Homo sapiens: one gene and its partner. Each later gene encodes a partner of the first gene's protein in a complex. Each region holds a gene or a part of one and is shown in the gene's direction. Other genes may lie near its edges. The genes, in order: ADAP1 and KIF13B.

Region 1 (10,132 bases):
CGAGCATTTGCGGCATCTTTCACCAAGGCTTCGGGAGAAGACGGAGCCCGGGGGGAGTCAGGTCTCTCTCTTCTGGGACTTCAGTGTGGTTCTTCCCCACCTGTTCTCCAGGGGTGTGTGTAACTAAATACTTTGCAGGCCAGACACGGCGTCACACATCTGTAATCCCAACACTTTAGGAGGCCAAGACAGGAGGATCGCTTGAGCCCAGGAGTTCAAGCCCAAGCTGGGCAACATAGAGAGACTTCATCTCTACCAAAAATTTTAAAAATTAGCTGGGTATGCTGGTGCATGCCTGCGGTCCCAGCTACTTGGAAGGCTGAGGCAGGAGGATCGCTTGAGCCCAGGCGTTGGAGGCTGCAGTGAGCTGTGAGCTGTGATTGCACCACTGCACTCCACCTTGGGCAACAGGGCAAGACCCTGTCTCAAAACAAAACAATACAATACAAGACAAAAAAAACCCCGCAAAACCAAACAACGGCTGATCCTGTAACCGCATTCTTTCTCCCAAAAGCCGCCCTACTCAGCACAGGCAAAACTCCTGGTACCCGAGACAGGGTCACTTGGGCAAATGTTTGACTGACTGAGGGGTGAGGAGAAAGCCTGTGGTCTCTCTCGAAGACAGGGGCTCTGCTGAAGTAGGGCTGTTAGTGGCCCCTTCATTCATGACTCCCGTGGAGACCTGCTCCGGACTGAGCTCTGTGCCAGATCCGGGGGTGCTGGGTCTGGGGTCCTCAAGAAGCCCACGTTAATGGGGAGACAGGCTTCATTAATCAGGGAGCCTAACAGCTGTGACAGAAAACCCCCAAATCCCAGAGGCCGGGCATGACCCCCAAATCCCAGATGTGCAGCGTGACCCCCAAATCCCAGAGGCCGGGCATGACCCCCAAATCCCAGAGGTCGGGCATGACCCCCAAATCCCAGAGGCCGGGCATGACCCCCAAATCCCAGAGGCCGGGCATGACCCCCAAATCCCAGAGGTCGGGCGTGACCCCCAAATCCCAGAGGCCGGGCGTGACCCCCAAATCCCAGAGGTCGGGCGTGACCCCCAAATCCCAGAGGCCGGGCGTGACCCCCAAATCCCAGAGGTCGGGCATGACCTCCAAATCCCAGAGGCCGGGCATGACCTCCAAATCCCAGAGGCCGGGCATGACCCCCAAATCCCAAAGGTCGGGCGTGACCCCCAAATCCCAGAGGCCGGGCGTGACCCCCAAATCCCAGAGGTCGGGCGTGACCCCCAAATCCCAGAGGCCCGGCGTGACCCCCAAATCCCAGATGTGCAGCGTGACCCCCAAATCCCAGAGGCCAGGCATGACCCCCAAATCCCAGAGGCCAGGCATGACCCCCAAATCCCAGAGGTCGGGCGTGACCCCCAAATCCCAGAGGCCGGGCGTGACCCCCAAATCCCAGAGGTCGGGCGTGACCCCCAAATCCCAGAGGTCGGGCGTGACCCCCAAATCCCAGAGGCCGGGCGTGACCCCCAAATCCCAGAGGTCGGGCGTGACCCCCAAATCCGAGGCCCGGCGTGACCCCCAAATCCCAGAGGCCGGGCATGACCCCCAAATCCGAGGTTCAGCCTGCTGGTTCTCACGCACCATCCCCGGCCGGGGGCTCACTTGGGTGCCTCTCCTCCTGGCAGTGACTCAGAGCCCAGGCCCAGCCCCAGCCCCACTGGGCCTCCGCCGCCTGGCATGGGAGTCCCCCACCAGCCAGGGGTGGGCCCCGATCAGCGTTGGGAGGGGGGCTATCCTCCGCCAGGCCTGAAGGGTGGGGTCCTCTCCACTCATGATTCCCCAAACAGGCTTGGGTCCACAGCCGCACCTGCTTGTGGGGAAGCGCCTCGATTTCCACCAGCCTCACCCAGGAGAGCCTCCACTTAAAAATAAAAGCAGTTCAGAGATGACTCATCTCCCCCAGAGAGACTGTTCTCTCTAGGGTGCCTTTCAGCCATTCCACTCCCTTGACTTATTGTGAAGGGTCGTTGGGAGCCAGAAGAAAACAGGAGAGTCACACAGCAGCCCTCTTAGCCATCGCCCCAGGGCGGGGCTGGACGCTCCCCACATTTTGCCGTTTCAGAATGAGACATTTCACACGTGCAGCAGCAGAAAGACTGCGCTGTGGCACCCACACCCTGGGCAGTGGCTCACGCCTGTCATCCCAGCACTTTGGGAGGCCGAGCAGGTGGATTACTTGAGGTCAAGAGTTCGAGGCCAGCCTGGCCAACATGATGAAACCCCATCTCCACTAAAAATACAAAAGTTAGCCGGGCATGGTGGTGCGTGCCTCGCTACTCGGGAGGCTAAGGCAGGAGAATCGCTTGAACCCGGGAGGCAGAGGTTGCAGCGAGCCGAGATCGTGCCATCATACTCCAGCCTGGGCAACAGACTATGTCTCAAAAAAAATTCTGCTCCCTCAGCCTCCCAAAGCGCTGGGATTACGGGCCTGAGCCACTGTGTCCAGCTTTGTTGGACCTTTTAAGGCAAACCAGACATCGAGACGTGGAATCCCTAGACAGGCCACATGCAGGGTGAAGCCACAGCGCCGCTGTCACACCTGCAAAGTTAGTGGCCGCCGGGCGCTGTCACCCCACGCAGGGTGCGTCGTCATCCGCGGCTACCATCCGTCCTTCGGGGGTGTGCAGCGCGTTGGGTGTGAGGCACCCCCTGCACTCAGATCCTATCTGAATTTCCCAATCTTGGCCCCATCACCCAGGAGGATTCGGGCCCACAGACTTCTCCCAGGGCAGCGGACACGAGGAAAGCAGGTGGACCCATCCTCACGAGTGCCGGGTGCCCTCCAGCCCGGGGCATGGGCTCCTGTGGGGCCGGCCTCTGCTGGAGGTTCCCGGCACCCGCGGGGCAGAGCAGGTGCATGCAGATCGGCTTCCTCAGATGCCGTGGGGTGTCTGGGGAGAGCCCCGTCTGCACCGGGCAGAGGGCGGGGGGGGAGCTGGGGTTAGGTGCCTGTGGGGCGCACGGAGCCTGGTGTACCCGGGGGTCTCCGCTGAAGCCCCCCCCACTGCATGGCCGGGGGCTCCTGACTCGAGGCTCCGTCCACCCTCCCTCCGGGGTCCCTGGGCTGAGCCTCCGTGAACGTCCGGCTTTCCCTTGCAGATCCCGACTGGGCCTCCTACACTCTGGGCGTCTTCATCTGCCTGAGCTGCTCGGGAATCCACCGGAATATCCCCCAGGTCAGCAAGGTGAAGTCCGTCCGCCTGGACGCCTGGGAGGAGGCCCAAGTGGAGGTACGGAGGGGGAGGGGCGGGGGGACCCGCGCAGTCCCCGGGTGGCCTCAGCCCGGGCCTCTGGAGCCAGAGATGCCGGGCGGCCTGGCTGTGGCCCCTGGAGCCTTGGGCTACTCTGGGGGCCTGGCTGGCTGGACCCGAGGACCCCGCCCCCTCTCCAGCGGCTCCGCCTGTGTGGCTGCTCCACCCACCCCGTGCCGGGTCCAACCTCTCTGTGAGCAGCTCCAGGTGTGTGTGGTGGGCCAGGGAGCGAAGGCGGGTCGCCGATTCCCGTGCCCTGGGAGCTCCGGAGTGCTCCCCTCAAATCCCCACACCTGGAGCACTGGGCTCAGGGTAAAAGAGACCCTGTCTCTAAGGAAACAGAATGCAGCGTCCCAGGCCGCGCGGCACGACCCAGAGTCAGGGTCGCATTTACACGGCAGTCCACGTGCACCCCGGCCCGCTGCCGTGTAGGGCACCATTACCTGTCCCCTGGGCGGCCTCTGAGGTGACACAGCCACTGCCCACCTCTCACCCATGCATCTGATGAGGCTTCACGGAGCACTTGGCATGGCCAGGCAGGGACACCAGCCACAGATGCTTCGTGGGGCCCTAGAGACGCCCCTATGGGGAGGGAGACGGGTGTGAGCCAACCAGGAAGCCCTGGCGTGCAGGGAGGGGCCACGCATGCTGGAGGCGGCAGGAAGGGCCCCGTAGGGAGACCCCGAGGGAGGTGGAGAAGGAACAAGACCCCGGCTGGGGGCTGCAGGTCGGATGGAGCGTGGGGCCTGAAGACCCGGTGGGAGGGTCACCCCAGCCCCACTCGTGGGACTTGGGGTCTGGAAGCCATTGATCTTCCTGACTGCTGTGAGTGGGACCGAAGGGCCGCATGGAGGTGAGAGTGGTGGTCTGGGGGCTGCTGTGGGGATGGGGAGGGTCGTAGAGGCTGGTGGCCTCCTGTACATGTCTCTCCCCTCTCCAGCACCATTGACCCTGGGCCCCCCCTCTCCAACACCACTGACTCTGGCACCCCCTCTCCAGGACCACTGATCCCAGCCCCTGGTTCTCCAGCACCACTGACCCCGGCTCCCGGCTCTCCAGCACCACTGACCCCAGTCCCCGGCTCTCCAGCACCACTGACCCCGGTCCCCGGCTCTGCACCACCACTGACCCCGGCCCCCGGCTCTCCAGCACCACTGACCCCGGCCCCCGGCTCTCCAGCACCACTGACCCCGGTCCCCGGCTCTGCACCACCACTGACCCCGGCCCCCGGCTCTCCAGCACCACTGACCCCGGCTCCCGGCTCTCCAGCACCACTGACCCCAGTCCCCGGCTCTCCAGCACCACTGACCCCGGTCCCCGGCTCTGCACCACCACTGACCCCGGCCCCCGGCTCTCCAGCACCACTGACCCCGGCCCCCGGCTCTCCAGCACCACTGACCCCGGTCCCCGGCTCTGCACCACCACTGACCCCGGCCCCCGGCTCTCCAGCACCACTGACCCCGGTCCCCGGCTCTCCAGCACCACTGACCCCGGTCCCCGGCTCTGCACCACCACTGACCCCGGTCCCCGGCTCTGCACCACCACTGACCCCGGCCCCCGGCTCTCCAGCACCACTGACCCCGGTCCCCGGCTCTCCAGCACCACTGACCCCGGTCCCCGGCTCTGCACCACCACTGACCCCGGCCCCCGGCTCTCCAGCACCACTGACCCCGGCCCCCGGCTCTCCAGCACCACTGACCCCGGCCCCCGGCTCTCCAGCACCACTGACCCCGGTCCCCGGCTCTCCAGCACCACTGACCCCGGTCCCCGGCTCTGCACCACCACTGACCCCGGCCCCCGGCTCTCCAGCACCACTGACCCCGGCCCCCGGCCCCCGGCTCTCCAGCACCACTGACCCCGGCCCCCGGCTCTCCAGCACCACTGACCCCTGCCCCTGGTTGGGAGTAGCTCATTTGCTTCTAACAGGCAGCCTTGGTGCATGGGTCACACCTGGAGGCTTGTTAGAAATCACAGCTGGGATCCCAGTGCCTCGACCAGGTGTGGGGGTGGTGCCTGTAATCCCAGCCACTCAGGAGGCTGAGGCAGGAGGATTGTTTGAGCCCAGGAATTCTTTTTTTTTTTTGAGACGGAGTCTGGCTTCGTCGCCCAGGCTGGAGTGCAGTAGCATGATCTCGGCTCACTGCAAGCTCCACCTCCCGGGCTCAAGCAATTCTCCTGCCTCAGCCTCCCGAGTGGCTGGGATTGCAGGTGCACGCCACCACGCCCGGCTAATTTTCGTATTTTTAGTAGAGAAGGGTTTCACCATGTTGGCAAGGCTGGTCTTGAACTCCTGACCGCAGGTGATCCACCCACCTCAGCCTCCCGAAGTGCTGGGATGACAGGCGTGAGCCACCATGCCTGGCTGAGCCAAGGAATTCGAGGCTGCAGTGAGTTGTGATTGCACCTTTGTGCTCCAGCCTGGGAGACAGAAAAAGACCCAAGGACAGCAGAGTCCCTGACCCACCCAGGGCGACCCCAAATCAGCTTCTGCACTTAATGCCGTGATCCCCCACACCCTGAGTTGAGGGCGTCCCTGCGAATCCCCTCAGGACCCCGGCCCACCTTGGGCTCACCGCCTTCGACCCACCTTCACTGACCTGGGTGGGGGACACTGGGATGTGATATCCGTCCCTTCGCCCTTCGACCCACCTTCACTGACCCAGGGGGGGACACTGGGATGTGACATCCATCCCTTCGCCAGGCTGTGGGCTTGTCTGAGCCTCCGTTTCCTTCCCTAAAAAATGGGCAGGGTGGCCCCTGGACCATCCCCCTCCCCGGACAACAGGGGACCAATGTCAGAAAGATGATGGGACGGGTGTCCCGTCTCCAAGTTGCTCTGCCATCACTCCTGGAGGAAACAGCCCTGAGTCCCTGGAGGGCCTCCAGGGGCACAGACTCCTTGGCTCGGGGAGAAGACGTGGCTATTGTCCCCATAATTCCAGGGCAAACGGGGCAAGGGCCCAGGGGTGGGGCGTTCACTGTTGTTGGAAAAACCCTAAATGTAATCAGCGGGAGAGGACAGGGGCCAACTTGGTGCTGTCCTGATCTGCCTGGGGTGATGGCCGGAGAGGAAGGCTGGAGAGGAAGGCTGGGGAGGGCCCACCGTGGGTATTACCAAGAAACCCCTGATTCCTGCCGCAGAGGTCTGGTGCGATGGGGCCTTTGGGAGAGCACTGAGCTGGGGGCCACAAGGAGATTCCATCCCCATTCTGTTGTCTGCACGTTCACTGGTGCGATAAAAACCAAAGATGAATCTCAGGCAGGCCTGGGGGCTTGTCTCCTGAGAGCACCTGCACCCCGGCCCCCAGGCAGGGCTGGGTCTCAGCCCGGCTTCTTGCTGGGGACTCTGTGGGGCGGGAGCTGCACTGGGCCCCCCCTGGCTCCCTGCACTCAGGCCCCTTGGCCATTCCTGGGCTGGTGGTCAGCGGGGACATCCGGGGGCTAAGCCTGCTCCCACCCCTAAGGGAGAAACGGGCCTGAGGTGGCCGTTGCTGAGGACCGGACCGAGGTTGAAGGGCCAGGAACCAAAGATTCTTCTCTTCTTTCCTTTTCTTCACATTTTATGTTTTTTTTTTTTTTTCTCCCTACTTTCTATTCCTTGATAATACCTTTTAAAACAACTGCTTCCTAGAGATGCCGTTCACAGCCATACATTTCACCGTGTAAAGGGCACAGTTGAAGGTTTTTTAGTAAATTCAGAGTTGTGCAACCTTCGCTGAAGCCAATATTAGGACATTTTCATCACCCCAGAAAGGAAGTCCGTGCCTTTTGGCTCTTACCCCCGCCCAGCCCAAAGCAGCTGCAAATCCACTTTCTCTCTGTGTAGATTTGTGGGTTCTGGACTTTTAAAAACGGGATCGCACGGCGTGTGAGCTTCGGCGTCCGACTCCTTTCCCGCGGTGCCAGGTCCCCGAGGCCCATCACGCTGCAGCCTGTGTGACAGCTTCGTTCCTTTCAAGGCCGGAGAACATGCCTTGTGTGGATGGAACACGTTTGCTTTATTCATTCACCCTCTGATGGACACGTGGGTCGTCTCTACCTTATTTAATGTATTTCGACAATTTAGTGACACATTCAGCAGTTTCCAAGGACAGTCACAGAAGGGAGCTGTCTCCTTCCCTGTCTCCCACCTTTGAGCACCGTCCCCACCCTGGCCAGGCAGCCAGGGGTCTGTGTGGGCCTCGCTCCCTCCCTCCCTCCTTCCTTCCCTCCTGTCTTCCTTTCTTCCGTCCCTCCCTCTGTCTCTCCGTCCCTCCGTCCTTCCTTCCGTCCTTCCTTCCCTCCTGCCTTCCTTTCTTCCCTCCCTCCCTCCCTCAGTCCCTCCGTCCCTCCCTACCCTCCTTCCTTCCTTCCTTTCTCTTTTTTTTTTTTTTTGAGACACAGTCTGACTCTGTCGCCCAGGCTGGAATGCAGTGGCACTATCATAGCTCACTAAAGCCTTGAACTTTCAGGCTCAAGTGATCCTCTTGCCTCAGCCTCCCAAGGAGTAGCTAGGACCACAGGCATACACCACCGTGCCTGGCTACTTTTTTTTTTTTAGAGACAGTCTCACTGTCTCCCAGGCTGGAGTACAGTGGTGTGATCTCACCTCACTGCAACCTCCACCTCCCACATTCAAGCGATTCTCCTGCTTCAGCCTCCCGAGTAGCTGGGATCACAGGTGTGTGCCACCATGCCCAGCTAATTTTTGTATTTTTAATAGAGACGGGGTTTTGCCATGTTGGCCAGGCTGGCCTTGAACTCTTGGCCTCAGGTGATCCATCCCCCTCGGCCTCCCAAAGTTCTGGGATTACAGACGTGAGCCACCGCGCCAGCCCTGGCTAATTAAAAAAAAAAATTTTGTAGTGATGGGGTCTTGCTATGTTGGCCAGGCTGGTCTCAAACTCCTGACCTCGTGATCCGCCCGCCTTGGCCTCCCAAAGTGCTGGGATTACAGGTGTGAGCCACCGCGCCCGGCCCTGTGTTTTCTTGCCTGTGAACTCTCTTCACACCTTTGCCTGCCTTTCTGCTGCAATGTTAGCTGTTTTCATCTTCTAGGGGTTGCTGGTATGTTAGAGAAATTAATCTGAGATACCAAAAACATTTTTTTCTAGGTTGTCTTTCGAATTTGCTCATGGTGGTTTTTGCCGTGGAAATTTTTACTTCGACATAGTCAAAGTGGTCAGCGTTTTATTTTGTGGTTTTAGGGTCTATAGCATACATAAATAGGCCTTCTCTGCCTGAGGGTTTTTTTTTTTTTTTTTTTTTTTTTTGAGACAGTCTTGCTCTGTCACCCAGGCTGGAGGGCAGTGGCTCAATCACAGCTCAGTGCAGCCTCAAGCTCCTGGGCTCAAACGATCCTCTCACCTCAGCCTCCTGAGTAGATGGAACTACAGACGTGCACCACCACGCCTGGCTAATTTTTGTATTTTTTGTAGAGACGGGGGTCTCACTATGTTGCCCAGGCTGGTCTTGAACTCCTGGCCTCAAGTGATCCTCCCGCCTCAGTCTCCCAAGCGCTGGGATTACAGGCTTCAGCCACCACACCCAACCCTGAAGGTTATTTTTTAATAACAGCTTTGTTGAGGTATAATCCACATACAATTCACTCCCGTAAAGCGTACAGTTCAGTAGTTTTAGTGAAGCCACAGGGCTGCACGACCATCACCACTGTCTAACTTCAGGACATTTTAACGTCCCAACACAGCCGGTACTCACCACCCCTCCCATCACCACCGCCCCAGCCGTTACTGAATGTAGACAGAGCTGCTTTGTGTCTCTGTGGATTTGCTTGTTCTGAACATTTCAAACAGATGGAATCATGCAATACGTGGTCTTGTTTTTTTTTTTTTTTTTTTTTGAGACAGGGTGTCACTATGTTGCTCAAGCTGGTCCCGAACTCCCAGGCTCAAGCGATCCTCCCACCTCAGCCTCCCAAAGTGCTGGGATCACAGGTGTGAGCCACCACGTGCGGCCGATTCGTGGTGTTTTGTGTCTGGTTTCCTCCATGGGCACCGTGTGTCCAAGGATCGCCTGGGTTGTAGCGTGTGTCAGAATTGTGTTGCTCTTTTTTTTTTTTTTTTGAGATGGAGTCTCGCTCTGTCAGCCACGCTGGAGTGCTGTGGCACGATCTCTGCTCACTGCAACCTCTGCCTCCCGGGTTCAAGCGATTCTCCTGCCTCAGCCTCCCGAGTAGCTGGGATTACGGGCGTGCACCACCACGCCCGGCTAATTTTTGTATTTTCAGTAGAGACGGGGTCTCACCGTGTTGCCCAGGCTGGTCTTGAACTCCTGACCTCGTGATCTGCCCACCTCTGCCTCCTGAAGTGCTGGGATGACAGGCGTGAGCCCCCGCGCCCGGCCGGCATTCCTCTTTATGGCCGAGGAACCCTCCATGGTGTGGCTCGATCACATTTAGTTTATCTGTGGTTCCGTTCACGGAGCTGGGGCTTGTTCCCGTTCTCAGCTGTCACGAAGAATGTGCTGTGAACACTCATGTGCATGTCTCTGCGTCTTCGCGTCTCTTACGGTGCAGAGGAATCGCTGGACTCTATGGTAACTCTGTGTTTACCGTTTTGAGGAACTGCCAGACTGTTAGTCACCAGAGCCGGAGGTTCCCACCAGCAGCGTGCGGGGGCTCTGATCACTCCACATTCTCTCCAGCTCACTCCCCTGTGCCACTTTGACCTTGCCATCCTAGTGGGGAGAGGTGGTAGCTCATTGAGGTTTTCATCTGCGTTCCCCTGACAGCTAACAGTGTTGAGTGCCTTTGCGTGGCCGAGTGGCCATTTGTGCATCTTCTTTGGAGAAATGTCCGATCAAATCCTTCCCCATTTTTAGGCCGAGGTGGGACGATGGCTTGAGCCCAGGAGTTTGAGACCAGCCCGG
Region 2 (10,046 bases), on another chromosome or scaffold:
AAAGTGACTTCTATAGCCTATGAAGGGACCATCAGAAACTACTGAATGGGTAGATCAAAGCCATAAAAAGAAAACTAGAAATCAGTTTAGGAATGAGCAGATTTGCAAAATGTGAGGGCAAAAAATGAGAAACTCCTTATCTGCACAGCTAAAATTCAACAGCTCTATCAAAATGGCTATAGAATCTACACCATAAATACTTGTTGATTTCCTAAGTACTTGCTTTAAGAAACAGGTACAAGGGAATGCCTTATTTACTAGTTCTTTGTTTCTTTTTCCTCTAATAGTTGAAAAGAGAGAAACTGGCCAGGTGCAGTGGATCACACCTGTCATCCCAGTACCCTGGGAAACCGAGGTGGGCGGATCACCTGAGGTGGCGAGTTTGAGACCAGCCTGACCAACATGGCGAAACCCCGTCTCCACTAGAACTACAAAAATTAGCCGGGCATGGTCGTGGGCGCCTGTGATCCCAGCTACTCGGGAGGCTGAGGCAGAAGAATCACTTGAGCCCAGGAGGAGGAGGTTGCAGTGAGCCGAGACTGTGCCACTGCATTCCAGCCTGGGCGACAGGGCGAGACCCTGTCTCGGAAAAAAAAAAAAAAAAGAGAAAAAAGAGAGAGAGAAAAACCAGGACTTTTCTCTCTGTCTTGCTGGAGCCTGTGCTGAACCCTGAATCCTGTTGATAGTTCTCCAATTTCATTTGGTGTTGAAGCCCCTGAAACTCCCAGGCTGCAGGTTGTAACTTGCAATTTGGTCCTCTGTCTCCCGCCTATCAGAGGAACACTTTCCATGGGAAGATATGGGCATTTCTAGTCTTGGGCTCTCTCTCTTTTTTTCTTTTTCTTTTCTTTTCTTTTTTAGAAGACGGAGTCTCACTTTGTCGCCCAGGCTGTAATGCAGTGGCGCGATCTCAGCTCACTGCAAGCTCTGCCTCCCAGGTTCACGCCATTCTCCTGCATCAGTCTCCGGAGTAGCTGGGACTACAGGTGCCCGCCACCACGCCCAGCAAATTTTTTTTGTATTTTTAGTAGAAACGGGGTTTCGCTGTGTTAGCCAGGATGGTCTCCATCTCCTGACCTTGTGATCCACCCGCCTCGGCCTCCCAAAGTGCTGGGATTACAGGCGTGAGCCACCGCGCCTGGCTGGGCTCTCTTTTAAGAATCATCTTCACTGCAAAAGTCAAAGGAGACAGAGTAGTATGAACAGAAGTCAAAAGGGGAAACAGCTCACAGGGGTTCTTCCCTGCAGTCCCTAGGGAGGCTACTGTCCTTTTCCTCTAAATATTTTCAGAACATTTTAAATGGTTTTGAGGACTTTAGAGAAAGTCCTCACTTCTTCTCTATTCTATTCTTCCCTTCCTTGAGGTCCTTAGGGGCTTTCCTCTCTTTTCAGTTTCAGCTTAAGTTTAAACACAATATTTCCATAGAAATGTTCTCTTGTTCTCTTTTTCTGCCTGCTTTGACTCTGTTTAAAAAGCCAGATTCAAGCTAGCACCAGGACGTGCCATTTAAAAATTAAATTTACCTGGTTATAAAAGAGATATAAAGTGACGTATGGAATCTTGGGACATTCCAAATCCTTATTTTTTATAACCTGAATGTAGGGAGGTGGTAATTAGGATGTGTGTTTAAGACAAGAGTACCAACCTGTGGTAACCAGTCTGGGGCCATGGCAAAGGTGACTTCAACACTAAATAAGAGCAAAAGAACAGTAGGGCAAAACAATTTCAATATAAAATCATACCCTTTATGATCTTTTTTAAAAAAAAAAAAAGATAGTGATGGTAGATAGTAATTTTTGTGTGCATTCTTTTTCAAATAATTTACTCGGTGACCTAGCACAATGGCTCACACCTGTAATTCCAACACTTTGGGAGGCTGAGGTGGGAGGATCACTTGAGGTCATGGGTTCAAGACCAGAGTGGGTAACATAGCGAGACACTGTTTCTACAAAAAATTTAAAAATCAGCTGGGCATGGTGGTGCATGCTTGTAGTCCCAGCTACTTGGGAGGCTAAGGTGGGAGGATCGCTTGAGCCTGGGAGGTTGAGGCTGCAGTGAGCTAAGATGGTGCCACTGCACTCCAGCCTGGGCACAGAATGAGACCCTGTCTCAAAAAAATATATACTTGCTAAAATTAAGAAGCTGTCATAGTGTCAAACACTGAGATTGGCAATCCTAATTTGGTTATCCTGATGTTGTTTACTTTATTGGGCTGTGAAAATCAAAGGACCTGCTGCACTAAACCCACTGCTGGTCTAGATGAGACCTCCTGAAGTGCAGAGGCAGTGCCCCTAAGAAAGAAATTTCCTTTTTTAAAAAAGAGGGCCTTCTGGGGTAGCATTTTCTATTTTTAACCTTTTTTGAAATTTTGATAAAAAACACGTAACATAAAACTTACTATTGGCCAGGCACAGTGGCTCACACCTGTAATCCCAGCATTTTGGGGGGGCTGAGGTGGGTGGATCACTTGAGGTCAAGAGTTTGAGACCAGCCTGGCCAACATGGTGAATCCCCATCTCTATTAAAAATATAAAAATTAGCTGTGTGTGATGGTGCACACCTGTAATCCCAGTCACTCTGGAGGCTGAGGCAGGAGAATCACTTGAACCCAGGAGGCAGAGACTGCAGTGAGCAGAGATCATGTCACTCACTGCATTCCAGCCTGGGCGACAGAGCAAGACTCCATCTCAAACAAACAAACAAACAACAACAAAAAGCTTACCATCTTGGCTGGGTGTAATGGCTCACACCTGTAATCCTAGTGCTTTGGGAGGCTGAAGTGAGGAGGATTACTTGAGGCCAAGAGTTCAAGACCAGCCTGGACAACATAGCGAGACTCCATCTCTACCAAAAAATGAAATATAAAAATTAGCTAGGTGTCGTGGTGCGTACCTGTAATTCCATCTAGGTGAGAGGCTGAAGCAGGAAAATCGCTTGAGCCCAGGAGTTTGAGGCTGCAGTGAGCTATGATCACACCACTGCACTCCAGTCTGGGCAAACAGAGCGAGATCCTGTCTCTAAAAAAACCCAAAAAACCTTACTGCCTTAACCACTCTTAAGTGGTTAGGTGGCGTTAAGTACATTTACATTGTTGTGCAACCATCACCACCATTCATTTCCGCAGCTGAAATCTTCCCAAGCCGAATCTCTGCACCCATTGAATACTAACTCCTCATACCCCCTTCTCCTAGCCCTTAGTAACCTCCAGTCTACTTTCTATCTCCATGAATTTGACTACCATGTGTATCTCATATATGTAGAACCATGCAGTGGTTGTTCTTTTGTGTCTGGCTTATTTCACCTAGCATAATGTTTTCAAGGCCCATCATCCATGTTGCAGCATGTTTCAGAATTTCCTTTCTTTTAAAGGTATTTTTAGACCGGACACAGTGGCTTATGCCTGTAATCCCAGCACTTTGGGAGACTGAGGTGGGTGGATCACCTGAGGTCAGGAGTTCGAGACCAGCCTGGTCAACATGGCAAAACTACGTCTCTACTAAAAATATGAAAATTAGCCAGGATTGGTGGCACATGCCTGTAATCCCAGCTACTGTCGAGGTTGAGGCATGAGAGTCGCTTGAAGCCAGGAGGTGGAGGTTGCAGTGAGCCGAGATCATGCCACTGTACTCCAGCCTGGGTGACAGAGCTAGATCCATCTCAAAAAAAAAAAAGTATTTTTATACTTTTTGACAACATTGCTTGTATTGAAGATACTCAATAACAGGATGGTTGGTAAAAGGGCAAGTCTTACCAGCTTTCTGTATTTACTCATCTGTAAAATGGTTCTGAGTTCTATTACTATCATTTAAACACATCTAAGCAGGGGTCACAAACCCACAAGGTCCAGGCGCATGTGTGGTAAAGCCACCTGGAGGGGGGCCGTGGTGAAGTGGAGAGACGGGTCTCTGATAAAGGTGGCTGCTGCTATTTAGTTCCAATCCACTCTGTCCAATATGTAATGTAGGCCCAGTACTGCATGCACAAATCTGATTTCACACTCTGTTACCCAAGCTGGTCTCAAACTCCTGGCCTCAAGCAATCCTCCTGCCTCAGCATCCTAAAATGCTGGGATTCCAGGTGTGAGCCCCTGCACCTGGCCACAAATCTGATTTTTATGTGTTGGCCAACACTGTTGGGCCAAACAGAACATGTTTGCGTGCTGGCTCTGGCACCCAGGCCACCTGTTAGAATGTCTGCCAGGGCTAATAAAAAGCTAATTTTAGTGTGGCCTCATTCATTAATTCATGCAATTAATGTTTATGGGTCTCTACTAAAGGCTAGGTTACACATATGTTAATCTTATTTAAAAATGTACCTATTTTACTAGGTATTAGTATCATATCCACTTTTCATATTAAAGACAAGCCCAGAGCGGTCAAATAACTTGCCCCTGGTCACACAGTGGGAAGCGCTGAGGTGGGCTTTGAACTCAGATGGTTTTCAGAGCCCAAGGTCCTGTCTCAAAGGAGGGGGACTCACAGGACAATGTTAACCCGTGGACCTATGGACACTCCCAGAAAACGTGATTTGCAACTTGTCGTGAAGGACGAGCTCAGCAAACAAGGCCGGACGTCAATCCAGGCAGAGGAAATAACTTGAGCCAGGGATCAAACACTAAGATTGGCAGGAAATGAGCAGGAAGAGGTAGCGGGGTCCCTGACGCCATCTATTCAATTGTTTTTCAGAAGAGGTATCAGCTCTTGAAGGCTTACTTCTCAATACTGGCTGCGAGAGCAAGAATGGTGTGTAATTTACAAAAGCCGTCATTGCTGTAGGTAAGTTGTAGCAAACGACTCGCGCCCGAGCATTCCCGCCCCCGCCTTCGCTGCGGCCCCGCCCACGACGACCCTGGGGAACTACAAGTCCCGCCATACAGCGGGGAGCGCCCGGAGCTCGCGCCGGCCCCGCCCCCAGCCCGGTCCCCACCCCCGGCTCCGCCCCCGGCCCCCTCCCGCCGGGTCAACCCCGAAGAGTCGCCGGTGGCCGCGGCAGACGGAAGCCGAACGAGTTCCTCGGCGGCTGCAGGATGGGGGACTCCAAAGTGAAAGTGGCGGTGCGGATACGACCCATGAACCGGCGAGGTGAGAGCCGAGCCCTCCTGGGCCGCCGGGGCGGAGGCGGCAGGTGCCTGGCGCGCCCTTCCCTCGGCCGCCGTGGGGGGTCCGGCGGCCCCGCCCCTATAGTCAGCGGCGGGGCGCGAGGAGGGGCCCGGGGACCCTGAAACCCGCTCCCGCGCTGAGACGCCCGGCTCCCTCTTCTCCCCTCCCTTCCCCCCTGGCCAGCCCCGTCCCTGGCGCCGTCGGGCCCCTCGTGCCGGCCCCGCTGCCCCTTCCGCCTGCGCCCGCCCCGCCCCTGCGCCCTTTTGCCCTCTCGTCTCCCCCGGAGGTTCCCGAGGGCGCCCTCGGCCCTCGCGCCCAGCCTCGTCCTGGCCCCTCAGCCTCGCTCCTTCCCCGCCAGCTGTCATCGTCGCCCCCGCGCGCGGGTCGCCAGCCCCTGCAGCCCGCCTCGGGACCGCCCGGGACCCCCCGGGACCCCGCGTCTCGCCCGGGTCGCCCAAGCCTGCACCGCCTTGGCCCGCGGCGGGAAGAAGGGCAGGGGGCCAGGCGGGTGCCCCGCGGCGAGTTCCTTCCACCTGGGCGTCCTGAGATTGGGGTCAGGTGGAGGAGATGCCCTTTTCGTTGTTTTTGGACAGTTGAGAAAGTTTTGGTTTTGCCTGAAGTCTCATTCATCATCTCTCAATAAATAGCTAAAGTGCCAAGATTCTTGTGGAATTGTATCTTTCTGACATTCTCTTAACTCTGCAGGGAGTGTAGAGAAGGCAGATAAACCGAGTACATTTAAATAATCTGTAGACCCGGGGAGTGGAGAGAACCCCAAAAGTCAGGGGAGGAGGTGGGCTGGGTCTTGGCTTTGATAGTCAAAGCAGCATGACTGGGTGAGTTGCTTTAAATAAGATAATGTGTTTGAAAACGCTTTATATACAAGGTCCTGTCATTGGGGGTCACTATTACTGTCTCAGGAGATGACTTTGCCATTGATGAGACTTTGAACTAATTAGAATCATTTAAGTACCAGAGACAAAGTTGTAGCTTCTTAGCAAAATCAAGTGTTGTTTAATTTTTATGTAGAAATTATAGGTTGTTTTCCTCTTCTTTGCTTTCTTTTGTATATATTGAGACATACAGATCAACCAGTTGACATAAGCTTTGTTGGTTTGTCCTTCTCGGGGAAATTGGTTTCTCGCTTGGAGTTATCTCATCTATGGGAATTGTTTTGTCCTGTTCCTGCTAGGTCCGATTAAAGCTGTCAGGTGAGTTTTTTTCCCTAAGAACTTAATTACTTTAAGTTCTCAACTAGTGCAAGATTGAGTCCTGCTTTGCTTCACTAATCTCGTGCTCTGACAACACACAATAAACGTCGATACAATTCTGAAAATTTTCAGAAGCATCAGTTTTTAAATATTCAGGTATCTGTATTTCAGTTTACTTCCAGTTTACCATCACAATAATTTAAAGAAAGAAGCCAAATGAAACATAACTTATCTGGGAATTGATTCTGAAAGGATGGTTTCAGCACATTCTTAAAATTTCCTTTTCACAAAAAACTTGGAAATGTCAGTGCTAAAAAGAGGCCGCTAACCAACCACCACAAAAGACATCTCAGATATTTAGAGCCCTTTCCCTCTCCCTTTCCCCATTGGTTTCACTTTTTGAGGGAAATTCTTATGCTTTTCTCTTATAAATTGCCATTGATAAGGTTGTAATAAACATCAGAGTTTAGAGGAAGGCAAAGAATAATAGTTTTAGCTGTGGAACGGATGTGAGCTGATCCTTGGGTTCAACAATCATTTTGAAATTGAGGTTTACCCATAGATTCCATTAGCCTATATAGAGAAGTGCATTATTTGGTGTAAAGTACCTCCTGTGTTCACTTAGTGCCCATTCTTAGCCTTATATTTCCTGACGTGCATGTGGACTTCTTTTTTCAGTGATTACCACACATAAATTTGTTCTTTTCCATTTTTGTTATGAAGTAATTGTTCACATAAATATAAAGGTTATTATGGAATACAGTGTGGTGGGATTGTAAATCCAGTGATTTTTAAAAATTGGTGTCCAAAGTTTGTATAAAAAGACTAAAACAGGCCAGGCACGGTGGCTTACGCTTATAATCCCAGCACTTTGGGAGGCCGAGGCGGGTGGATCACCTGAGGTCAGGAGTTCGAGACCAGCCTGCCTAACATGGCAAAACCCTGTCTCTACTAAAAATACAAAAAATTAGCCGGGCGTGGTGGTGGACGCCTGTAATCCCAGCTACTAAGGAGGCTGAGGCGGGAGAATAGCCTGAACCCAGGAGGCGGAGGTTGCAGTGAGCCAAGATCGTGCCACTGTGCTCCACCCTGGGCGACAAGAGTGAAACTCTGTCTCAAAAAAAAAAAAGACTAAAACAAAACCATATTTCTTTCCAGTAATTTCCTTTTTTTTCTTCCTTGTATGATCTGTAGGAACCTTTCCAGTAATTTTGAAAAGAATATTACTTTGAACAGTTATTAGTATTATGTAATACTGTATAATTATGACAAAGAGTAAAACTTGAGTCCTAATAGTTTCTATCATATAGGTGCCGGAAGCAACCTTATAAATCGCTATCTATAAAAGAGGACGGGGATGAGAATGGGTTACTGTGATGATGTAGTTTTACTGTGTAGACTCTGATATTTGGAATCACATTAGCTATCTTTTGAGGAAAATCTGAAAATTTCCAGAAAACTCTGGTGTATTAAGTTCTTGTGTGATTCAGTGGTTGTGCTTAGGTGTTTGGAGTTTTAAGGTGGTTAGCTGATTTATTATTTAACAGTTATCCTCGAAGTGAGAGTATTTTAGTCTTTCTGCTAAACTGTATGTGGGTTTGGGAACCTTAGTTATTTGAAGGTTAAGCATTAGGCCCTAATTCAGTAACAGGAAGAGTTGTAATGGCTAATTTGTCAGAAATATTTGTCTAGTCATACATTTATTTTAACATTCCACTAACAAAAGGAAAAAGAAAAAGAAAAAAGTTCACATACTTTCTTCATCCTAACAGCTTTTCATTTCCATGCCAGTTTGTGCTCACACGTGTATGTAATTTTACATAATTTTAATATTACAACCTTTATTTTGCCTTTCTTCATCTGAGATGCAAAGCTAAACAACTAGAGAAAAGGGTAAATTTTTGTCACAAGATCTTCAAGTTCTATTTGCAGATATCGTTTGTTTTCCAGTGTTGTTGTTCAGACTGTACAGCTAAACAGATAATTCTTGTGTGCTTCCATGTGCCGCACAGAACACCCATTCATACATTATTAACCCGTCTAATCATTACAGGAGCTGAAAGTTCTGTAGCCGTAATTGGTGGGATTAGTTAGATCAGCAACATTCTCCTTTCCAGGAATTTGATGTTTTCTAACTTTAGGTGGCTTAAAAAACATTTAATAGGTAAGCAAACATTGATTGAGTGCCTGCCAGGTATCTGGCTTATATTAGATAGGATGAGATCTTAATGCTTTTCCTCAAGGGATTTCCTGTGTGTAAATCTGTATAAGATCAACTACCAAAATAAGTAAATATCTATAAAAGGTGTTTGGAATACCTTTGTTACCTACCTAGCCTAAGGGGGTAGAACCGGGAAACGAAAGAAATGAAGATAGAAACAGTGAAATAGATTATTTCAGGTGTTAGGGAGAATGGACAAGAAATTTATTTCAGGAGATATTTCAAATGAGTTTACTTGGCATTTTCCAATACTTGATGTGGTGAAAGACACAGAAGTATGTAATAATGTCTAATAGAGTCAATGTAGAGTCAGTGCCTTGGTAATCATGATCTAGTATCTCAATGGAGGGACTATTATACAGCGATTAAAATGATGACAGTCAAAACCATTTAACAAGGAAGATCGTTTTCTCTGTTAGTGGAAAAAGAATGTAAAGCTGTACGTGTAACTGATCAAATCTATTATTATTACTATGTAAAAATGTATACAGGAATGGGCAAGAGCTAGAAAGAAACATGAAAAAGTGAAATTGATTGTTCTTGTTAGGGGGATTTTACTTCCTAAAAGTTTTCTTAGGGTTGCCTGTTACCATCATATTCAGTTTCTTAAAGCATGCTTTATGGTTCATGCCTGTGAGGAAATGACTGTCATGGGCTTGAAAAGAAAATGCCTGTGAAAAGATTAGATTAAAAGGTAAACAGCTGTAGCAGGCTGCTAGTTACTAAGTGCCAGGTGAATGACAGGGAAATAAGGGAATCGAGAGGAGTTTAGACTTCACTGAGGAGGGTGAACTTTGGTTGGACTTCCAGGGAGGAAGCTTATGATGTGAGCACGGGAGAGGGGATGGCATGTATTCTTTGAGGAGGAAGTATGGCCTGAGAGTGAGGACACAGAGACTAGAATGAGTAAAGCAGGTTTAGGCAGCAGAGATGAGATCTGCCTGCCAGAATGGAGATTCTGTGAGGATAGCTAGAGAATGATGGGACAGGAAAGGTCAGGTGGATTGCAGGAAGCCCTGAAAGCAGCCAGGCCAGAAGTCCGGACCTAGGGTGGCTGGTCCACGCACTCTGTTTTGCTTCTTGGGACCTTGTATGGGGCTTGGACACAAACACAACGGGGAAAGATTGCTAGATCCCAAAGCAAGATTGGAAGCTTCAGTAGATGACCGATTTCTGGCATAGCTGGGCAGGATTTAAAAGCGCTTGCTGAAAATGAAGCCTTGTGAATGGGAAGCATAAGGAAGTCGGTCAAAATTAAGCAGCTGTGAATCAACAGGCAAAGGAAAAACCCAGCAAGTGCGAGGAAGCTTAGAAGATGCTGGTAGTCAGTGAAGATAGAGGTGACCCTTAGGAAATGAAGGGACAGGAGAAGGTGGCTTTGACCCCTGGGGTCATTGGTGATTCTTCAGTATTCTCAGAGAGATCACTGACAGATGTGGAGCCAAGGAGGACCGTGGATGGAAATTTCTGGCAGTATTTGCTAAAACAGAAGATACTTGTTTTGTCAGCATCTG

What was found.
Region 2: the proteins of ADAP1 (region 1) and KIF13B are in contact, whole or in part, in a crystal structure (PDB 3MDB), measured with the Homo sapiens proteins. Residues at the interface, in NP_006860.2 of Homo sapiens: Trp137, Asn143, Gly144, Gln145, Phe146, Leu147, Pro186, Ala187, Lys188, Ile189, Gly190, His191, Pro192, His193, Tyr211, Glu213; in NP_056069.2 of Homo sapiens: Val451, Asn452, Leu453, Asn454, Ala455, Asp456, Pro457, Leu463, Arg512, Phe514, Asn516, Gly517, Arg531, Leu533, Asn536, Asn537, Phe539.

The regions. Positions count from the first base shown.
Region 1 is NC_000007.14:928,487-938,618, reverse strand, and holds part of ADAP1 (arf-GAP with dual PH domain-containing protein 1), read left to right. Parts: intron 1-3,113; coding exon 3,114-3,244; intron 3,245-10,132. UniProt on the Homo sapiens protein: GTPase-activating protein for the ADP ribosylation factor family. Binds phosphatidylinositol 3,4,5-trisphosphate (PtdInsP3) and inositol 1,3,4,5-tetrakisphosphate (InsP4). Regulates the incorporation of CD63 and CD9 into multivesicular bodies.
Region 2 is NC_000008.11:29,258,016-29,268,061, reverse strand, and holds the start of KIF13B (kinesin-like protein KIF13B), read left to right. Parts: upstream 1-4,991; 5' UTR 4,992-5,027; coding exon 5,028-5,082; intron 5,083-10,046. UniProt on the Homo sapiens protein: Involved in reorganization of the cortical cytoskeleton. Regulates axon formation by promoting the formation of extra axons. May be functionally important for the intracellular trafficking of MAGUKs and associated protein complexes.